4 separate regions of the Homo sapiens genome follow, and regions 2, 3 and 4 are each linked to region 1. The links come from fine-mapping of genetic effects on gene expression. A gene starts in region 1. Each other region holds a variant in brackets. All regions are shown on one strand. Distances are from middle to middle.

What was found.
Region 2: its variant is fine-mapped to the expression of RFTN1 in cerebellum (GTEx, PIP 0.99).
Region 3: its variant is fine-mapped to the expression of RFTN1 in cerebellar hemisphere (GTEx, PIP 0.97). The same link has a PIP of 0.9 or more in cerebellum.
Region 4: its variant is fine-mapped to the expression of RFTN1 in whole blood (TOPMed, PIP above 0.99).

The regions. Positions count from the first base shown.
Region 1 is chr3:16,510,706-16,515,836 of GRCh38, reverse strand. It overlaps RFTN1 (raftlin, lipid raft linker 1), which reads left to right and starts at 2,138. Exons shown (of 10, transcript NM_015150.2): 1 at 2,138-2,395. RefSeq lists silencers at 580-755, 1,909-1,978, 2,009-2,368 and enhancers at 2,659-2,738, 3,289-3,698.
Region 2 is chr3:16,356,749-16,361,914 of GRCh38, reverse strand. It overlaps RFTN1 (raftlin, lipid raft linker 1), which reads left to right. Exons shown (of 10, transcript NM_015150.2): 7 at 3,868-3,983. Among named protein-coding and RNA genes, the nearest start is that of OXNAD1, 94 kb to the right of the region's middle. The variant A/G (reference allele first, on the strand shown) is at 2,276.
Region 3 is chr3:16,372,362-16,377,492 of GRCh38, reverse strand. The region is part of intron 5 of RFTN1 (raftlin, lipid raft linker 1); the gene reads left to right. Among named protein-coding and RNA genes, the nearest start is that of OXNAD1, 110 kb to the right of the region's middle. RefSeq lists an enhancer at 3,651-3,700. The variant C/T (reference allele first, on the strand shown) is at 2,846.
Region 4 is chr3:16,543,072-16,548,237 of GRCh38, reverse strand. No RefSeq gene overlaps it. Among named protein-coding and RNA genes, the nearest start is that of LINC00690, 9.3 kb to the right of the region's middle. The variant A/G (reference allele first, on the strand shown) is at 2,268.

The DNA of each region.
Region 1 (5,131 bases):
CCAGTCCATAGCAGTCAAGTGGAAAATCCAGGCAGCTCTCTACAGAACACAAGTGAATCCAACATTTGGCTCCTCATTAAATATTCCAGGTGAAAGAGAATTGGAACACCCTGGATAATTGCTGAATGCAGGTTAAGAAGAGCCTTGAAAGATCTGCATGCTATTGGCTCATCCACTCATTCCACACATATTTACTGAACACCTACTATGTGCCAGTAGGAAGCATCAGAATATCAAGAAGATCAGGAGTTCTAGAAAACCCTCAAAAATGCAGATCCAAGCAGGGAAAAAAGTCATTTAAGACATTTGCCCATGATTATTAGCACTCGGGAAAATATTGAGTGGAAGAAAATGGAAGCAATCAGAATAGCATATTAACCTCAAGCACTGGTGTCTTAAAAAAAAAAAGCACAAAAAACACAACGGTGTGCAAAAGTTTTATAGAGTGAAAATGATTTGCTTAAAAGAAATCAAGCACACTGCAACTAGGTTATGCTGCATTCCCCCACCCCCACCCTCCTTTTTCCTTTATCTTCTTTTAAATGCCTACCGGTTAACACCTATCAATTTTATTTTCTTTCTGTGGCCTAGTGACCAGCAAAGGATCAGAAAGATTTTGGATGGACCCTGACTTGCAGCAATTCAAGGCCTCGGGCAGATAGATAGCATGAAGACCCCTCCCTTTGGCTTCATAAATGGGTGTTCACAACCTCTGGTGATGCCCCTGAGCAAATGTCCCTGCGCACTACTGTCTGAACCTGGACTTACGTGGTCACCTGGTCTTATTTTCTTTCATGTGGCAAGCTCAAGTGTAGGGGGGAAATGGGGGACACTGGGGATAGTGGTGGTGAGTGTGACACCAGGAAAAGGTGGGGTGGAAAGGGAAAGGAGAAAAACAAATAAAAACAAAACAGTGGTGAGGGAGGGGGAGCAAAACAGAACTAGAAAGGCTATGGAAAGAGAAAATAAGGAAGAAAATCTCTGAGAAGCTGTGGTAACAGGAAGAGTCCCTGAAAACAAAATAGTGCTTCCTTACTTGCTGGAGGAGTGTTATTAGTGCCAGAAGGACCTCATCGAAACACTGCTGGGCCCCTAAACCAGCCCTCCACCCTGTGTGCTCCAGTGCTTAACTTTGCCCACACAGGGTCTTCTTTGCCCAATTAGAAAATGGAGATAATTAATTAAATTATCTCACCCTTCTTGTTCTAGCCCCCTTAAAATAATGATAATAGCTAAGTTATAGAGTGGTTGCTAAACACTTTACATATAATAACCCACGAAGAAGTGCCATGTGACAAATAGGCGCAGAGCAGTTAAGTCACTTACCCAAAGTCACACAGCCAGTAAGTACTAAAGCCAGGAATCCAACCCTGATTATTTGACTTTAAAGTTCCCCCTCTTAACCCCTACACTGTAATTCTGCTTGGTTTAGTTTTACGAAGAAAATATTTTCTAATGGCTCCTTGCCTCACATCTTCACTTTACTAATGCAGCCTGGTTTACTAGTGCTTCACTCTTTATATAATTTTCTCCCTGGGTGCCTCAAGTTGCCACGCAAGGTGATTCTCCAGATCTTCTCAAACCTCTGGACATCTTAAGTAGGTAGACCAAGGGATGGCAACGGAGACAGTGGCATTACCCTTCCCTGAAGCACTAACTCGCAAGAGAGAATTTCAGCAGCACCTGAGATGTTTAGGGATGCTCCCACCTGTGGAATGGGGTCGAGAAATGGTCCTCTCTCAAGTCGGCCCCAACCCCACCCCCAGCCATCAGCACCTTGATGGCAGTCGCCCTTTCAGCATCCTGGCTCAAATCTTGAAGGATCCTTGTCTCCCAGGCGCTCTTCCTGACAGCACACAACCTTGATTAGGAGGGGCTGGGAGGGAGGATCGATGAGCCCCTGACCCCTGGGTTCTGAGGCTGCCAGGGTCGCTTGCAGCTCGGCCGCGTGGAGGTGACCGGGCGGAACTCCGAGGGGGCGCGGGGAGAGCTGGGCGGGCCCACCGCTCCAGCGGCTGCTGTCAGGGGCCGCGAGGCTTTCCCTGAAGATGCAGCGTAGCATATTTTGCACATGAGTTCAGAGGAAGAGGAAGTGTAGCCGGCGGACGCGCGGCGGCGGCGGCGGGGGCGCGTCGGGGCTGGAGCCGGAGCGCGCCGGGCGCTGGGCGCAGCGAGCGAGAGCGCGGCGGCCGCGGGCTCCGGCGAGGGACAGACGCACCGATCGCCGGAGGGACAGACACACGACCACGCGGCGCCACCGCCCACGCCTCCACCCACCGGCGCCCAAGTCCTCCCCGCGCCGCCTCCTCTGTATGGCACAAACTTTCCTCCCGGGACGGAACACGCTGCCTCAGGGAGCCCGCGACCGCGCCTTCTCCTCCGCCGGTCCCATACGGTAGGCGGCGGGGGGGGCGCGACAGGGCTTGGGGTGTCGACCGGCACAGGCCCCTCCGTTTGGCCCCATGGACCGGGTCTCTGGCGGGTAGTGGGAACCGCGCGTGGCGCCTCCCTGCAGGTTGCTCTTTGCCGGGGCTCCGGAGCTGCCAGAGCAGCACCCCCTGGCCCGCGTCGGATGGGGACCTGGGCTGATCCTTGGGACGCCTGGATCTTGGGCCAACTTTTTTTTGCGGGGAACGGGTGTAGGGGAGTCATTCCTGGAGCGATGTAGGGAGAGGCACTTCGGAGCAGCCTGTTGGGGGTCGTAGGCTCTGCAGGCTCAGAAGCGCCTAGGAAGGACGCAGAGGTGGGGGAGCTTGGAGGCTACAGGTGGGTCCAGGACACACTGCCGCTGGGGTCCTCGGAAAAGAACAGGAGGGAGCTGGTCGCGGAGTCCAGGTTTCCGGGGTGCGCGCGGCCTGGGTGGGGCAGGGTGGAGGCGGTGCCTGACTGCCCCTCTGCGTGTGCCCTGGGAGGTGGGTTTGCTCTGGGGACAGAGGTGCTGGACGTGTAGGAGCAGACATGCCGCGCGCTCCGAGGAAGCGCCGGAACCACCAGAAGCACAGGGACGCGGGTGCCGAGAGTCCCCAGCACTGAAAACGGGGATCTCCTCTTCTGTAAGGGATTTTCTTCCCTTGTCTTAACCCACTTCTCTAGACTCAAGGGACGCCAGGATGGATATGGGTCTGGGCGAGGAGGAGGTGGTTGTGTATTTCGGGAAGCCCCGTTGTCAGGCACGCGCACCCCAGTCCTAGGCCAGGGCTGGTGCCCTTCACCTCCGGTGTCGCTGCCTTTGGCAGCAAGAACCGCGTGGAGGCCAAGGTTGTAGAACCAGGCACGCTCCCTGCTGTCTGTCTGTGACTCTGTGCTTGCCCTCAGCTGCCCTGTGTGGTTATGGGTGATCCCTAGGGACGCTGGGTGGTGTCAGTGAGTTTCTTCGGGGGCTTAAAACAAACAAACAAGAAGTACTTTTTTAAAAAAAAAGTCTGGCTCAATCTCTGTCAGTGGTCACCCCAGTTTCCAGCAACTCATGTGCTGGAACCCTTGTAGTCGGTACAGCTGTTTCAGGAGCTGGGCGCTCAACTAGACTAGGCATCTTCCAACCCCTGCCATCGTGTGTCATCTCAGGATAAGTTAAGGCCTTGCCAGGAAGGAAGCCGGGTGTAATGTGAGCGACCTCTGGGCCTGTGGGTAGGGCCTCTCTGCTGCCGGGATTCCTAATTTGTATCTCTGAACAGCTGAATCCCAACGAAGTTCAAGTGACCCCAGATGTCACCAAACCCCAGAGAGGGGTTACGAAGCAAGCTGTTTGGGACTCTTTGGTGCGTGTGTGCTAACCTCAGTGAAATCACTCTAACCTCAGACTGAGCTCTGCATCCTCTTTTGCCTTCAGTGGGGTTTCTGGCCCGCCTGAGTGATTCAAAGCCCCAGAGCTGGCACGTCATCCTCTGGCTGCATTTGTATATCAAGTCACTGGGTTGGTTTTTCTTTGTTTGCTTTTTGGCTGTATGGACATGGGGCAAATGGAAGTGGAGTGTTGTGCAGTTAGCTAGTAGATTTGGTACAGGAATTGAAAGATAATAAATTGGGAATACAAGTCAGTGAGTTCTTTTTCTCCCTCTTGAGCAGGAATTTTTGGCTTACATTCAAATAATTGCTTTGTCTGTAGGGAAACAAGCAGAAAATCTTTGGCATGAGTGATGTGAGTTCCTGTAAAGCTACTTATGTTCTTCCAGTCTTCTCTTTTCAGCAGAATTGAAACTATGTGGTCCCATGGCTTGGTGGGGCATGGTGCTTTGCCAAATTTCTAACTTGGTGGACTAAGGAGAGGACACTGTGACTCTATCCCCATCCCATTTTTTAAGATATAGAAAAGTTGCAAGAACAGTGACCCCCTAAATATACACACCTAGAGTCTAATTCACATTTTGCCATCTTTGCTTAACTACACACCTCCCCCAACCATCCAGCCATCCCTGTGTCCATCCATAAGTCCAGCTGATGGTTTTATGCACTTTAAAGTAAATTACAGATGTTGGTACAGGTCATTCCTAAACATTTTAGTACACATTTTATTATTTTGACTTCAATATGTGCTTATGGTTTCCTTAAGATAAAATTTATATACATATAGTGAAATGTGCAAAGATGGAAAGTACCATTTGCATAATGTTTTGACAGATGCATGCACCTGTGTAACCCTAGTCCTTATCAAGACAGAGAATATTACTGTCACCCCAGCAGGTGCCTTCATCCTCATTCTCAGTCATTCTCTGCCCTCACCCTCTCAGTGGCAACCACTGCCCTGTATCTCATCATAGGTGAGTTTGGCTTGTTCTTGAACTTCATGTAAATGGAATTCTGCAATATTGTGTAAAGCTCACCATATTTTTGAGATTCATCCATGTCGTATCCATGATTTGGTCTTTTTTTATTGCTGACTTATGTTCCGGAGTATGTCTTACTCCACAGTTTGTTTGTATATTCTGTTAATGGATACATGGATTATTTTAGTTTCTTTCTTCTAGTTTCTTTCTTTCTTTCTTTGGTTATTGTGAACAAAGCTGCCGTGAACATTTGTGTACAAGTCTCTGTAGGGACATGTGTTCTCATTTCTCATGGGTAAACACCTAGTAGTAAATTGCTGGGTCAAAAAGGAGATATATGGAAACCTGAAAAGAAACTGCCAGACCTT
Region 2 (5,166 bases), 150 kb after region 1:
CTGGTCTCAGCTGGGCTCCACTGCGGCAGCTCTGCTCCATTTGTCCTTCATCTCCCTAGAACCAACTGGCTAACTGGGGCATGCCCTCTCAATGTAATGGCCAAGACACAAGAGGCCAAGTTCAACCACACACGTGCTTTTTATGTCTCTGCTTGCATTACACCTGCTAATATCCCATTGGCCAAGCAAGTCAGATGAACAGAGCCCTAAGTGGCTGGCCTCCCCACCAGTCAATTTAGTCTTAACCACCTTCTCTCCTGATTCTGCTGCTCACCTGGTCCTTGGCTGTCCTTCGTTCACTCTGCATGTCAGGCTGGCTGTCCCTTCCTCCTGGAACTCTCAAACCCTGCAGATCCATGTTCCTTGCTTGCTTAGTTCACTCGAAGTGGGGAGCCCTACCCTGATGCCTCTTTCAAAAATAGCCACCACCACTGTGTCCACCTTCACACTCTCCCCTTGGCCCACTTAGTATTTTTCTAGCATGTATCACCTCTGACATGATGTTATTGTCTTCCTCCTCCACTGCAAGGTAAGCTTCATGTAGGCAGGGACTTTATCTTGCTGCTTGTGAGATCTCTAGTGACTACAGGACTACTTGGCACATAATAGATTCCCAGTAGGTGTCATAATGAATGGCTGGAAGGTTATTCAGTGCACTTGAACTCCAGTAACATGTCACTCACCCTTCTGAGGCCCTATATGCCATTTTTAGACTCCTCTAAGGGAAGTTTTTCTATTTAGATTACACTAAAATCATCTCCCCATAGTTTTAAAAAACTCTTTGATTCTAGTTAGGCCTTCAAGAGCCTTGTAGAGGAGAGAAAAAGGAAATTCTTTGTCATTTGTGTTGTCCATTTACTTGTGTTATACCTGTATTAACTTGTTAATAACCTCACAGAAAAGGATATAAAAGAAAACTCAAATTATATGTAATTCTACCACTTATAACTGCTGCTAGCATTTTGTGTATTTCCTTAAAGTTTGTCTAAACCATTTTAACATAAAAATCCATATTGAGCTCATGTGGCAGTTTTATATCCTAGTTTTTTCTCCATAATATTGTATCTAAAGCATTTTTCCAAATCATTAAATTCCCATAATATTTTTAGGGACAGGCTAGTATTTTATAGAAATCTCCAAATTTAACTATTTTTCTATGGTTAAATATTTGGATTGTTGAACATTTAGATTAAGTTTTTAAGTAATTTTATAAGTAATGCTTGTAGATGGGTATTTGATGGCATTGGAGGTTATTACCTCATGATAGACAAGAAAGGTAAGATTTCTGGGTGAAAGAGGGTGGACTTTTTGTGGCAAGCTCCTGCAACATTGTTAAATTGCTTTCTATAAAGATTGTACAGTTAAAATTCCCTTAAGCACTGTAAACTTTTGCATATCACCATACCTTTACCAGCAGTGAAAATTTTCTTTTCAAAATTTGTCACCTTGCTAAATAAAAAAGAAGTTGAGGCCTGGAACGGTGGCTCTTGCCTGTAATTCCAGCACTTTGGGAGTCCAGCAGTCCGAAACTAGCCTGAGAAACATAGTGAGACCGCATCTCTACAAATAATAAAAAATTAGCTGGGGTGGTGGCATGTGCCTGTGGTCCCAGCTACTCGGGAGGCTGTGGTGGGAGGATCACTTGAGCCCAGGAGGTTGAGGCTGCAGTGAGCCGTGATTGTGCCATGGCACTCCAGTCTAAGAGACAGAGTGAGACCCTACCTCAAACAAAAAAAAAAAGAAACTGCAATTTTTTTCAATGTTTACTGGCCATGGAAAGATAAAGAGAATTAATTAATTGCTTTATGTCCTTTGTTTCTAATGGTGTTTCAGTATTTTTAACTATAAAAGCTTTTTATATATAAAAATATTAAGCTTAGCCTTTATTTTTGTTATTGTTGTTGCAAATAATTTTCTCATGCTGATGACCTTTTGTTTATGGGGTCTCTTGGGAGCCAAAGCTAAAGATTGTTATATATTCACATTTGTCAGTCTTTTTCTTTGTGACTTCTAGAAAATACTGGCAGTTCCAGGAACTCCAGCATGATTCAGGGGACTTTCTGAATTTGTCTCCCTTCCCTCCCCATGAAAAAAAAAAGGTCACATTATTATGGATTTGCCCTATTAAAAATTGTCCTTTTAAAAGAGCGTATCATTGAAATGCGCTTTGTTTGTATGTTTACTAGGACTGTCATAACAAAATACCACACACTGCGTGGCTTAAACAACAGACACTTATTTTCTCTCAGTTCTGGAGGATAGAAGTCCATGGTCA[A/G]GGTTCCCACAACTTCAGTTTCTGGCTAGGGCTCTCTTCCTGGCTTGCAGACAGCCACCTTCCTGCTGTGTCCTCACGTGGCTTTTCCTCTTTACACACGCCAGGAAAGGGAGAGAGAGGGCTCTGGTTTCTCTTCCTCTTCTAATAAGGACACCAGTCCTATTAGACTAAGGCCCCATCCTACCCTAGTTAAAGGAGGACTAGGACCTCATTTAACCTTAATTACCTTCCTAAAGGCTCTGTCTCCAAATATAGTCACATTGTGGGTTAGGGCTTCAACATACGAATTTTGGGAGGAAACAATTCAGTCCATAATATTATGATTGAGCAGTGTTTATAGCATCAAGTCTGGGAACCAAGAGAGATTGTCCATAATCCCATAGATGAGAGACCTAGCCCTTGAAAGAGTCACATCACCTTTCATGATAGAGCCTAGCTTCAAACCACTTGCTTCTAAGTCAGTCTTCTTCCCCCAAATCCCTTATCAAAATGAACCTAGGACATTTAGGAGCCATGCCCCAAACAAAGGGGCAAAAGGTGCTTCCCTTAGTGTATTCTATAGGGTCAAGGACTCTGTTCAGTATTTCTTTTTTTTTTTTTTTTTTTTGGAGACAGAATCTCGCTCTGTCACCCAGGCTGAAGTACAGTGGTGCTATCTCGGCTCACTGCAACCTCCACCTCCCCGGTTCAAGCGATTCTCCTGCCTCAGCCTCCCAAGTAGCTGGGATTACAGCCATACCCTGCCACGCCCAGCTAATTTTTTGTATTTTAGTATAGATAGAGTTTCATTGTGTTGCCCAGGCTGGTCTCGAACTCCTGAGCTCAGTGAATCCTCCTGCCTTGGCTCCCAAAGTGCTGGGATTACAGGTGTGAGCCACTGCGCCTGGCCTGTTCTATATTTCTTTTTACCCTCATTGCCTAAGATAGTTCTTGATCATGCTATACATTTCATGTATACTTGTCGAATTGTGCAGAGCTCAGAACCTGGTACATTGACTAGAGCAGCACCCAGGGAAACATTTCCAGTGGTAAATTATTTGGGAAAATTCCCTCTCCCCCACATTCCACCTCTTGACAAGAGCTGCCTAAGATGTTGTCTGGACTGCAGCCCACATCATGTGAACTTCCAAAAATCAACGCATCTGACAAGCTCAGATCTGGTGTGTTATATCTCTTCCCTTTAAAAAAAAAGAAAAAAGAAAAAAAAAACCCTCACCTAAATATAGTTTGCTTCTAAAAACTGTCTCTAAATGACTGTGTTTTACCCTGGATAAGTTCTCCCCAGTGCATCCTGACGCTGGAGCATGAAAAGGAAGGTAAACGTGTGAAATCAAATGGTGATTGCTAACAATGAAATTTGGGCTCATAAAATCAAGGATATTATTCAAAACTGTGAGGTAAATTAGCCTCATTCATTCTGATAGGGCTAGATAGACTCTATGGCTTGTGTGTGCCTTCTTTAATTAACATGCTGAAAAGATGTTCTGATTGGGATTATTAATGAATGCAGTGGAAATGTTTGCTGCTTAGAAGACTTCTGCCACAGACGGTTTACAGACCCCCCCCACCCCCGCCTTTTTCTTTTTCCACAGATTCCTTACATGGCTTGACAGATGGAGTATTCATCTTTGAAGCTGTTTCCACAGAAGATAGCAAAACCATACAGGGCTATGATGCTATTGTGGTTGAACAATGGACAGTCCTGGAAGTAAGTGTGGGGTTGGCAGCCCCGCTTCTTTTGTTTAGACAGCACTTGTTTTATCCGCCTGCTTGATCTGACCGTGGGGCTGTGGCTCAGCTGTGGCTTTCTTCTGAGAGGGAGTTGACCTGGTAGGTCCTAGAAGGATCCCCTTAGTCTTTTCATTCCCCTCTTTTCCCACCCCCAGGTAGGGGTGGGCCCCGCTCTTCCCTTTCTGCAAGAAAAGCACATTGCATGTGCCTGGCCATTTGGTGGAAGGAGAGTTGTCTTCCATTAATTTGCATATAACTGACAACTCTAAGTGATATAAATGAGGCCACATAGTTTGTGGCCTCCGTTAATACTCAGAGCAGCATCAATATTGGAGCCAGACCCTGTGGCTCCCTCTGCAGCTATCCTTAGAGTTATGCACATGAGCTCACTTAATCTGCACAATAAGCCTTTTAAGTAAATACTGTTATTGCCCATTATATAGATGAGGAAACTGAGGCACAGAGAGGTTAGGTCCCTGGTCCAAGATTACACATTAAATACTGAAGAATGTCTTTGAGAAATGTTGACTCATGAGGCCACCAAATTGCTGTGGGAAGGGGAATTCCTCAAACCACGTTCTGCTGGGACTTTGGAGGAGCTAATTTACTTCCAAGATTCACTAGTGGGTAGCTGAAGGGCATTTCTCTAACTGCGGAAGCATGGACTTTTTAGCCTAGTCTCTTGTACACACAGTGTCTGGGATATAAAGGGAGAAGCTATTTGGACATAGAGAACTGAATTCTTGGTTTTTTTTGTTTGTTTGTTTGTTTGTTTTTTTGTTTTTTTTTTTTTTGAGATGGCATCTTGCTCTGTCGCCCAGGCTGGAGTGCAGTGGCGCGATCTTGGCTCACTGCAACCTCTGCCTCCTGGGTTCAAGCGATTCTCCTGCCTCAGCCTCCAGAGTAGCTGGGACTACAGGCACCCGCCACCACACCCAGCTAATTTTTGTATTTTTAGTAAAGACAGGGTTTCACCACGTTGGCCAGGCTGGTCTCAAACTCCTGACCTCAAGTGATCTGCCTGCCTTGGCCTGTTGAAGTGCTGGGATTACAGCGTGAGCCACCGTGCCCAGCCATGGACATAGAGAACTGCTTTCTGAATGCTTTGGAAGAACACAGGATTGGCATTGCTGGGAGGGCCTCTGCCAAAGAGGGCTCTC
Region 3 (5,131 bases), 140 kb after region 1:
GTTTGCTCCAAAATGTCACGTTTGAAGTGGATTCTAGACTGTGAGCTCTTTTATCTCCTGTGCTCTCGAAATTGCCCTTGAATTATCCAGTTTTCACACAGGAAGTGTCAGCCTGCCAGGCACCGATGAAAACCTACACACCACCTGTTAAAATACTTGCCTAAAGCAAGACATTTTACAGCTGAGCAAACTGGGGTTTAGAGAGGAAATTTGTTGCCCAGTCTGGAAATAGGCAGTTCGGGCATATGAACCCAGGTGGACTTACCCACCATCCCTTCACGCCTCTCTGCTTGGTCTTTCCTGTGTGATAGACTAACAAGATTTGCCGAGGCCCTTAATAAGATTTACAGGGAGCAAAGTTTCCCTCCGTTTCTCTGTATTTCCTTTTTCTCTACTTTCTTCAGGAAATCAACCATCCATATTTCCCCCTTTCTCCAGGAAATCTAGCATCTGGTCATTTCCTGAGAGCAAGGTACTTACATAAGCCATGTAAGTAAGAACAAGTATGAAAACTAACAGAAGACCCCCAGGGCTTAGGAGGGCTTTCTGTTTAGGCCTTTCTGGATGATCTCCCTGGTTAATATTGTTATTACCATTTATTTACGAATTCTTGAATTTAGCCTCTTACAAGTGATAATGAACAGGTGGTGCTTCCAGAAGGGAAAACAAGGAGAAACAGTTTCTTTTGTTACATCAGAACTTCTTGAGAGGAAAATTATGGGATGGTTAATTCCAGGGGCTTATTTGCAAAGTTGATTTAGAGGGAGATATTGGAGCTGCGTCAGTTTTGTGATGTAGTAAGACTATTGTTTAATCAAGGCATTGAGCCTTCTTAGTATGCACTGAAGTAGAGCCCTTCATCTGTGTGATTTTTCGCTGTTTGAGGCACATGCCTGCTGCCCTCATGAAGTAGCTGAGCATGCATTTAAGCCCAGTGTGTCGTCCTCATGAACGCCCAGGTCTTAGTCCAGAAACCTCCATCTTCTCATGGAGGCTGGGCTGGATGTGTGTGCTCTGAATCCTGGGCAGGAAGATGGACCTCACTGGAGTCCTTCTGTACGGTCCAGGACTGTGGGAGGGCGAGAGTCAGGCCAGGCAGAGGCCCCCAGGAGAAAGGGCAGGAGTGATGGAGAGGTGAGGAGCATGGTGCTCAAGAATCTAGAGTATACATTCCGGCCTGCCTTCCGTGCCTCAGTTTCTCACCCTTTGAAATGGGGATAGAACGATAGTTTCTCATGGAAAGGTTAAAGTTGTACATTTAAAGCACTCGGCACTGTTTGACTCATGAGTATGAGCTGCTATTATTGGGGTACAGGCTCAGTAGTCCTGACACTCGACCTCCACCTCTCATGGAATCCTGGCTTTGAGAAAGGAGGCAGTTACTATTGAGGTTTCCTCAGTAGCTTTCAGATGCTTCCTGTGTTCCAGAGCCCACCTTCCTCCGATACTCCTTCCAGACTTCCTGCCTCCTGTGAGAGGATTATTCACTGGGGAAACTTGTCCAAGGAACTTCCGCAGGTGCCCAGGACCTTCTTGCTACCCCGTGGCCACTCACCTTCCTCACCCAGAATCTCCCCTGATGGCTGAACACAGAAAAATTGACACCCAAAGCATCTTGGCCCCTATCCCATCACCCAAGTCCCTGTTCTCTCCTGGAGAAACAGACCCTGCTGGGGAGGAATGGGTGAATGTGTGTGTTTCTGGAGGTGGTCAGCCCACCAGTGGATGAGAATTTCAGCTCTGCACGGGTAGGCCAGGAGGAGGGATTAAAGCCTCCTTCGAGCCCAGTCTCCCTAGGCAGGTAAACACTGCCTGTCTCTACACATAAAGCAGTCCCTTTATCTCTCTGCTCAGGCTGCGAATCTCTGAAATTTAGGCAGCTCACTATTATCCCTTTTCCCTCCTTTGATGGAATAGATGAGCTTTTGGGTTTTTCATACAGGGATCATTTCACATATAAGCCTTTCAGTGGTCACGATGGCAGTCACCCTCCAAGTGCCCTATTCTGTGTCCTTCTTGTGTCATCTCAGTAACTCCTCACAACAGCTTTATGGCAGAAGATGCTATTACTAGATCCATTTTACAAATAGGGAGTGTCACCTTTTATACCCCCATATAGTTAAATTTCTTTATCACAGCTTGAGTATTTGGCCTCCCTGAAGGCTGAACGTCCAGGGACCCTGTCCTTATTGGTTGTGACCCTCACCTGACCCCCAGCCTCTCTCCTAATCTTTCTCCTAGGAAGCCCACTCACTGTCACTCCCCCACAGGCACACACGGGCCCCCCCAGGCACCCCTCCCCACTGCCTGCTCAGCTCCCAGCTTGCCTTCTCTCAGAGCCCCCTAAGGGAGGGTGAAGTGTTTTTTACTCCTCTTCTGCCAGGTGGGCTTAAATAGGCAATCACAGCAAGACAATTAAAAAAAATCCAGAGGGAGTCTCCCTCCTCTTCCCTCCTTCTCCTCAGTTAATTTATTTCCTTTATAGGAGGCCTTGGGGAGAGGAATCTAGGCAATGCCTGCTCAGACAGGACTTTCCAGTGGATTCTCCATGCGGAAGCAGGGGCAGGTCGTCCCTCCCCATCTCTGCGGGCTCGGTGCAGCCGTCACGCCTCCTTGCCCCTGCAGGTTCTTGGGGAGGCCCGCCGTGGGTTCCTCTTCCTGCTCGCTGACTTATTTCCTGGTCTGGGGGAATTTCCTTTTGGTTGGAGGTCCGTGCTGTGCCGTGATCACCTGAGCCTGTGCAGGGACAGCCTCAGTGTCTCCGTTGCCACAGCTTCCATCAGAGAAACCAGGAGGCTAGACAGGTTCACGAAAATTCTAATCATTCTCACCGTCACCAAAATAA[C/T]AAGTCTTCCAAGCACTGCCCTTCCTACCCTGCACCTCCTCACTTAAAATGCTTAGAAATGTCAGCCAGAAACCCAAGCGTGTGATGCCAATCATGTTTCTGGCTGAGAGGATTTTATTCAGTAGCCCTCCCTGGCTGCCAGCTCATTGTGAATGGCCAAAACCTGGGGGTTGGGCTTTCCTGATGTGAGGGCTCCTTCCCTCCCAACTCCCTTGGGATAGTTGGACCCCATGATGCGGCCCCCTCCCAGATCTGCCACCTGCCGCCATCTTTCTGGCCTTTTACTCAGTCCATTAACAAACAGCTATTGAGCTCCCACCCACGGTCATCAGCCCCTGCCTTCTGTGTCCTGATGAAGTTAGCCTCTTGTTAGATTTGGGAAAGAGCCCAGGGTTTGGGGTTTGAAAGACTCTTGGCTGTGCCACTTACTGGCTTGTGATTTCTGGGGGATCCACTTAGCACTTCTGGGCACAGAACCAGGGCCACCCCCTCTCATCAAGTTTGGGAGAGTCACATGAGATGGTGAAGGTGAAAGGCCCTTGTAAATATGGGACACATGCCTGTGGCTGCTGTCATGCTTGCAGGTGGAGTCCTGTGGATTGTTGTGCACGCAGCAGCGGTCCCTGCACTTTGCCTTTCCTGCTGCCCTGGCAAGCGGGCCTCACTATTAGTACCTGCTATTAGTACCCAAGCCTTAGCGAAGCTTGAGCAGCCTTGCCCAGATTTAGGCATCTGGATGGAGCAGCCTGGGGCCCTTCTACCCTCCTGCCCTGCCTCGCCACCATGGTGCCCACTGCCTCCCTTCCCAATGCAAACCTTTCTGCTTAGTTCCTTCTGCCCATGACCTCAGCAGCCTGCAGTCCCCACCCAGCTTGGACTGCCCAGCCAAGTGTGATGCCCACTTGTTCCTTCCAATGCAGCTAATGACCAGCTGCCTCCTCCTCCCACATCTAGCCCTTGGAGCCCCAGATTTTCACCCAGGCTCTAAACTCTTTCTTCTCTCCAGACCAGAGGTCTCCTGGGACAGCAGGGCCCAGCCAGTCCCCTGCTTACCCTCAAGACCTGGGCTCTCTGGGGCCCCACCTGCAGGCAAACTGCAGCCTTCCATCCTGTGCCAGAGTCCCCACGCCCAGGTACAGACCTCAGGGCTGGACAGCTGCCTCTTTCCTCCCCACTCCCTAGTAGCCTGGCAAGGCCTGAATGGACCAGGCTCCAAGGCTGGCAGGACTCAGCCACCCCCACCCTTGGGCCCCATGCCCCCTTAACCTGCCCTCACTTTCTCCTCTGGTTGGCTTAGGTCAATACGGTGAACACGTGTAACAGGAGGGATCTAAATGAGGCAAGGTGGGGGAAAGGGAGAGATGAGAAGACAGTCCAAATGCTCCTTGGGTGCTCTGCCAGTACAGTCCTTCAGCCACTCCCAGAACATTCTCAAAAACAATGCCTTCCCTATCCCTTTGGGACTTACCATCCCATGTCTGGAAAAATCTTCCAGCTGGGGTCATGGCAGAGTCACAGAGCAGCTGAGAAAATTTAAACAAACGTGGGGCTTCTTTTTGGAATCTTTGGTGCTTGCTCACGTGAGGATGTGTGTTGGAGAATCAGAATATTAAAACATCAAAGGACATCACTTTTGGACAGTTCTCTTGGCTGGTTTCCATGTGGGTAGAGAAAGGACTGGAGACAAGGAGATGATGGGGCAGAGGAGCGTACAAGGGTTATGCATGTGCAATCAGGTTTCTCCCAATATTTCATTGCTGCTGATGCTTTGGAGGCTCTTCGTTCCAACACTGTTTCCTTTTCCTGAGAAATTTATTTCTGTCTCTGGCTTCAGTCTGGCCCCCTGGGGAGGATCAAGCCGGGAAAGCTGTCAGCACCGTCTACCTTTTCTGAGGGTCTCTGTCTTCCTCCGCTACACCCCCAGCATTCTCACTTCTCCTTTGGCCTTCCCCTTTTCCTGGTTCATTACGCATTTGGGAAAGTTATGTTTCTGTCTTGCCATTGAGTGGGAGTTCCTTCTGTGTGATCAAGTGTTACCATGTAGTTTTGGACTTTGGCCACTTCCAAATTCCCCACCTACTTCTCCCACACAGAGGCTGTGATTTTTTTCTTCTTCTTCTTAATTCATTTGCATTTGTGCTTGACTGTAGCAGGCTGTAGCGAGTGGTGCTATGGCCCATGTTGGGGTCACCTGTGGACAGCTCTGGCCGAGCCCACCGCTTCCTTAGCCTCTCTACCTGCAGCCATTCTCGGGAATGGGCCCTGAGGAATTAATGATTCAGGAGT
Region 4 (5,166 bases), 32 kb before region 1:
TCTAGATTTGTCGATATTCCTATTCTGCTACCCTAAGCATGTTGCCTTTGCCTCAGGCTTCTTCCCTCATGATTGCAAAATGGCTGCAACAGCTCCAAGCATCACATTATCTCCCAGCAACATCCAAATGACAGAAACAGAAAGTCTCTGTGATTTCTTCTTTTTTGAGATTAAGGAAAACTCTTCTAGAAGTACCTCCAGCAGACTTCTCATTGACTACAATTGTGGCACATGCCCCATCCTGAACTCATCACTAACAAGGGAAACAGAACTACAATTTTGGACACAGACTGATCAAGGTTTACACCTTGAAACTTCAATGGGGTCCAGATTCCAAGAACTATCTGCTGCTCAGTTCCTGAACAGAAATCATTTTCTATTAACAAAGAAGAAGGTGGTAATCACTGTTGAGTTGGTGACCAACAGCTGTTGCCACAATTGTCATTTACTTCTGTTAGCCTCAAGGTCAGTGACATCTCCTCTGTGGGCTGGTGATTTCTCACTCTTGATTTCTCCTAGGCCATGTGTCTGATTTCTTCTAGGCCACAGATGCAACACGTACATGAAAATCTGAATTCCCACCGCACATTTGTTTGCAAAACTCTGTTTGCCATTTCTCTCCACTTCTTACGCCTACCTCTACAGATAATAGGGGCATGCATCTCTTTAGGGTGACCTTTGCATATTTATGCTAATTGCAGATTTAAACTATAAGCCCTAACACTCATAATCTCCTAGCTTCCCTCTGTAAAAAAATCCCCCTAAGTGATACTTAATTTCACATGCTTGCCAAATCTTAAATCCAAAAGCAAAAGCCGATTTACCTCTGTACTGAAATTAAAGCTATACAAAGTTTTTGGCTGTGGGGGCACACCTCACTGTCCTCAGTGGCCCTTCGTAGCACAGATTTAAGTTAGGAGTCTCCCTAATTTATTATGACTGATATTTTAAAATGTCATCAAACTATCCTGTCTATAAAGAAATGACGAAGCTTTCTTCCACATTTATGCAAGTCACAGGAGACCTTTCTAAATGGACGAAGTAAAATAATCTTGGGACAAAGCATTTTACTCCATGTAAACACAATGAATACACTGCCCTGAGCATCTGTGATTTTTTCTGAACATTGCCCCTAATCCAATTTTAATGTAGGCTTGTCATGGAAACAAAAACAAACACACTTAACCTTCAAAAGGGAAGATGAATGACACTGACTTCAGGTTTTTGACAAATATCTGTAAATATCTGAGCAACCCAATCTACATGATGATCTTTCTGCTATTGCTGGCAGAGTCTAGTTCTCCCTTCCCATTTACTCTGGAGCTTATATGAGGTGGCTATGATCTAACCAGAGCAAGTTCAAGTCATAAGGCTTTGTGGTAGTGAGTTTCTCATCAAAGAAACGTAATAAGTTTCCCATAATAGAAAGGAGTCAAGCAGAGGGTAGATGACCTTTTGTCCAGGATTGTGCATAGTAGAGGTTGAACATAGAGAACTTACTGAAGGTCTCTTATTGAAGGTCCCTTCCAAAAGATCCTAAGATAAGTCAGGAAAACAATCCTTATATTCATGTGTTGTTTTATGAATCAGAAAACTCTTAGACATGTGCTTTGTCTCATTTAAGCATCAAAACAACCCTATGAGGTAGGTGGGTTGATTATTCTTGTTTTACAGATGATGAAATTGAGGTTCGGGTAGAGGTTAAGCGACTTATCTAGGGTCACACATTTAGGAAGTGGGAGGTCCTAGGACCTCTGGGTCACAGATATCTCCGTTCTCAGGACAGGGCAGACAGGAGGCAGGCCCGTCTCTGCGTGGCTGAAGCATTGTCAGGCGGGCGGCTGCACTGCTGGGCACAGAGAAGTGGCTGCTCCGGCCTTTCTTTTTCTCCTACGCCCTAAGGCTGGTCCTTGGCAAAGCTGTCTGTCCTCAGGGACCCCTATGTGTTCTTTCTCAGTTGCTGCAGGTCGGAGCTGACCAGCCTCCCCAAAAGCGAAGTGTGTGAAGCCTGTGGTTTACACTTGCTTGGTGTTTCAACCCATGCCCTGACTACACCCTCTTTTTTTCTTTATTTTTTTTTTTATTATACTTTAAGTTCTAGGGTACATGTGCATAACGTGCAGGTTTGTTACATTAAACATGTGCCATGTTGGTGTGCTGCACCCATTAACTCATCATTTACATTAGGTATTTCTCCTAATGCTATCCCTCCCCATCCCCCAACTCCACCACAGGCCCTGGTGTGTGATGTTCCCCACCCTGTGTCC[A/G]TGTGTTCTCATTGTTCATTTCCCACCTATGAGTGAGAACATGCGGTGTTTGGTTAAAAGGACCATGGCAGAAACACCCCAAAGTAGGGGGCTGTCAGGTGGGCTTTCTCTCAGCCCACAGTGTCGGTGAAGGAGAAGGGGAACACTTCTGCTCAGTGGGGTCGCTCCAGTCATGCCGTACAGGCTACTCCACCTAGTCTGAATTGTGTGAGAACACAAAAGAAAATGCCACTGCTTGGTGGGGAAAGAATGTTGGTGGAGGGGACAGGATGTCCCGTTTCAATTCCCTCACAGCCCCCAGGCTCTGACATAGATGGGAGGACAGAGTCCCTTGTGTGAGGGCCTGGGAACTGAGCTTTCTTCCACGTAGTTCTTCCAATCAGATTCTGCCCTTTTCTGGTAATTCAATGGGAAATGAATCCACCCAGGAGTCTGGGCTGGCCCCCGAAAGGAAGGTAAATACAACAAAGAAAAAATCATTGCCAATTGCAGAGACCATGTGTTCACAGGAATAAACAGGAATACAGCTGAGCGGGAAAATGGGCGTATCACCACACATTACATCTGATCAGGCAAGTGCTGGGCCAGAAATGAGTTTTGTATCTTTTTTCATTTGGGTCAGCCAGAAGGGGTATATGAAAGGGAATAAAGTATACACAGATAGCTTCAAAAATAATATCTCTAAGCTTTTACAAAGCCATCCAGTCTTGCTATTCCTAATGCAACAGGAGATCATTACATTTTCATTGAATCTGGAAGATTTTTCTCTCTCTGCTTGACTGTATTTAACCACACAGGATGAGCCGTGGGCCTGCTGGCAGTATGTTTCCTTACTGTGAGGGCCTGAGGAAACTGATGTTTGGAGAGAGGTCAGAGGCTTGCCCAGGGTTGCACAGCTTGGAAATGTGAGGTCAGGACTCTCCACCTATGTCCTGGGTGACAAGACCCAGGCATAAGATAAGCCAGGCACCCACCGCACAGCAAGGTGATGTGCGGGTCCCGATTTCCTCATTATTTTCACCCCAAGGGCTTTCTCCCATTGGAACTATGCTGGGAGGTATCCGCTCTCTAAAAGAAGGGATGCTGAGGCATAGGAAGAGAAACTCATGTTTTCTGTTCCCACACAAAAGCTTTTGAGATGCAGGAGCTTAAAACCCTGAGCCTTAAAGGAGTTCAGGTACTAAGTTGATGCCAGAAGCAATTGACTTGGAAGGGTAAATGAAGTTGCAAGAGCTGGTTCTTCTCACTCCAGAGAGCGCGAGAGAAGAGAGACGTAGGGACCACGACAATTTGGCTGTTGGTAAATGTCACTGAGAAAGGGGACTGTGCCTCATTCCTGCCACAGATCTTTCACAGCAGCCCCCCAGGGGGATGTGGGAATCGCTGAGAGGATTCACTGCAGTCAGGGAGCCCTTGCTGATGGGGCTAGGGCAGAGGAGGTCTTCGTGGACCAATGGTGGAGAGCACAGGACAGCAAGGACATCTCAGAGGCACAACAGTGGGTGGCGATGGAAACCAGGTGGCCCCTGGGATCATGACTGTCACAAACCCTGGGAGTGATGGAGATACATTATCATCTGGGCCATATGTAGTTGCTGTTTTTATAGTTTAGAAAAGATCAAATAGCAGCAATTTCATATTGTTCTGTGTAACATCATGGGAAAGCCTAAATGGCCTGAGATTTCATTTCTACCATCCAGTAGAATAAGGGTTTGAAGCGGAACCAAATTCAGTCCTAGTCAAAGACAATTAGGCTTCTCACCCATTTGTGTGGAGGCTGCGTGTGGCACTCACCACACTGAATTGCCTCGACACTACCTCGCCACCAAGCAGTTCTTGAGATGCGTGATGGTTCAGATCTGCTTCCCCAGGAGGAGGCTGGGGTGTCTCCATAACATTTGACTCTAATTTGAATGGATTCTCCTCCACACTCTGCTATTTAAGACTTACACATAGATTCCGGTATTCAGATGGAACAGGCTTGGGAGCTGGGGAAACTTGATCTTTCCTCACAATTCAGACAAGATTTCAGTCTTGTCTATGTTATATGCCCATGAGCACAGGATGAGAGGAATGTAGGTAATTTCAGAATGTATGCAGGAGCCTACAAATTATCGCTTTTACTTTTTAAATGGGTTGGGTTTTGCTTCAGGCTTCTCACTGGAGTAAGGCAAACTGGATGGGGAAGCTTGGTTCCTCCTGGCTGAGGAACGATAGCCGGGAAATTGCTGGTCAAATCATCAGCCCTCGGTCCTCCTGACATGACACAGGAACCTGGGAAGGACAGAGGAAGTGGCTGCCAGGGAGGTGAGAAGGCATTACTCCTCCAGCAGATCCATATCTAGACATAGCATGGCGACTTGTACCACCATGCTTCTCAAGCTACATGCTGAGGCTCTCTGAGGAGCCTCAGTGAACACATAGGAATGCTGCAAGATAATTTAGATTTTTGAAGGAAACTCGTTAACACCTGTCAGATACTGTGCAAAACCACTAGTTTTGATGGTTTTGCCTAGTATCTGAGTTTCAGATGGTTGCTATGATAAAAAAAAAAATAACACATTGTGAAAAGTCAATGTGAAATAGAAAATGACAATGGCAGTATCCAATTTGAGTCCAAGGTTTGAGTAATTGTTCAGTGCCCAACAGGCACACACCTCCCATTATTAAGAAATTATGATCATTTAAAAGTAAAGTAAATGTATTTTTATTTCAGTCTGTCTGTGTTATTTTTTCCCGAAGTGGCAACTATGTTTTCAGGACATAAATAATTATTAAATTATTTGGACCTGACTAATTCATAAGCAAATTTTCTGGGTATTTCTTTTGACCTGTAGTTGCTATGAAAAAAATTACTGAGATACTAGGGGAGCTGTGAACTGAAAAAACTTGGGAATCT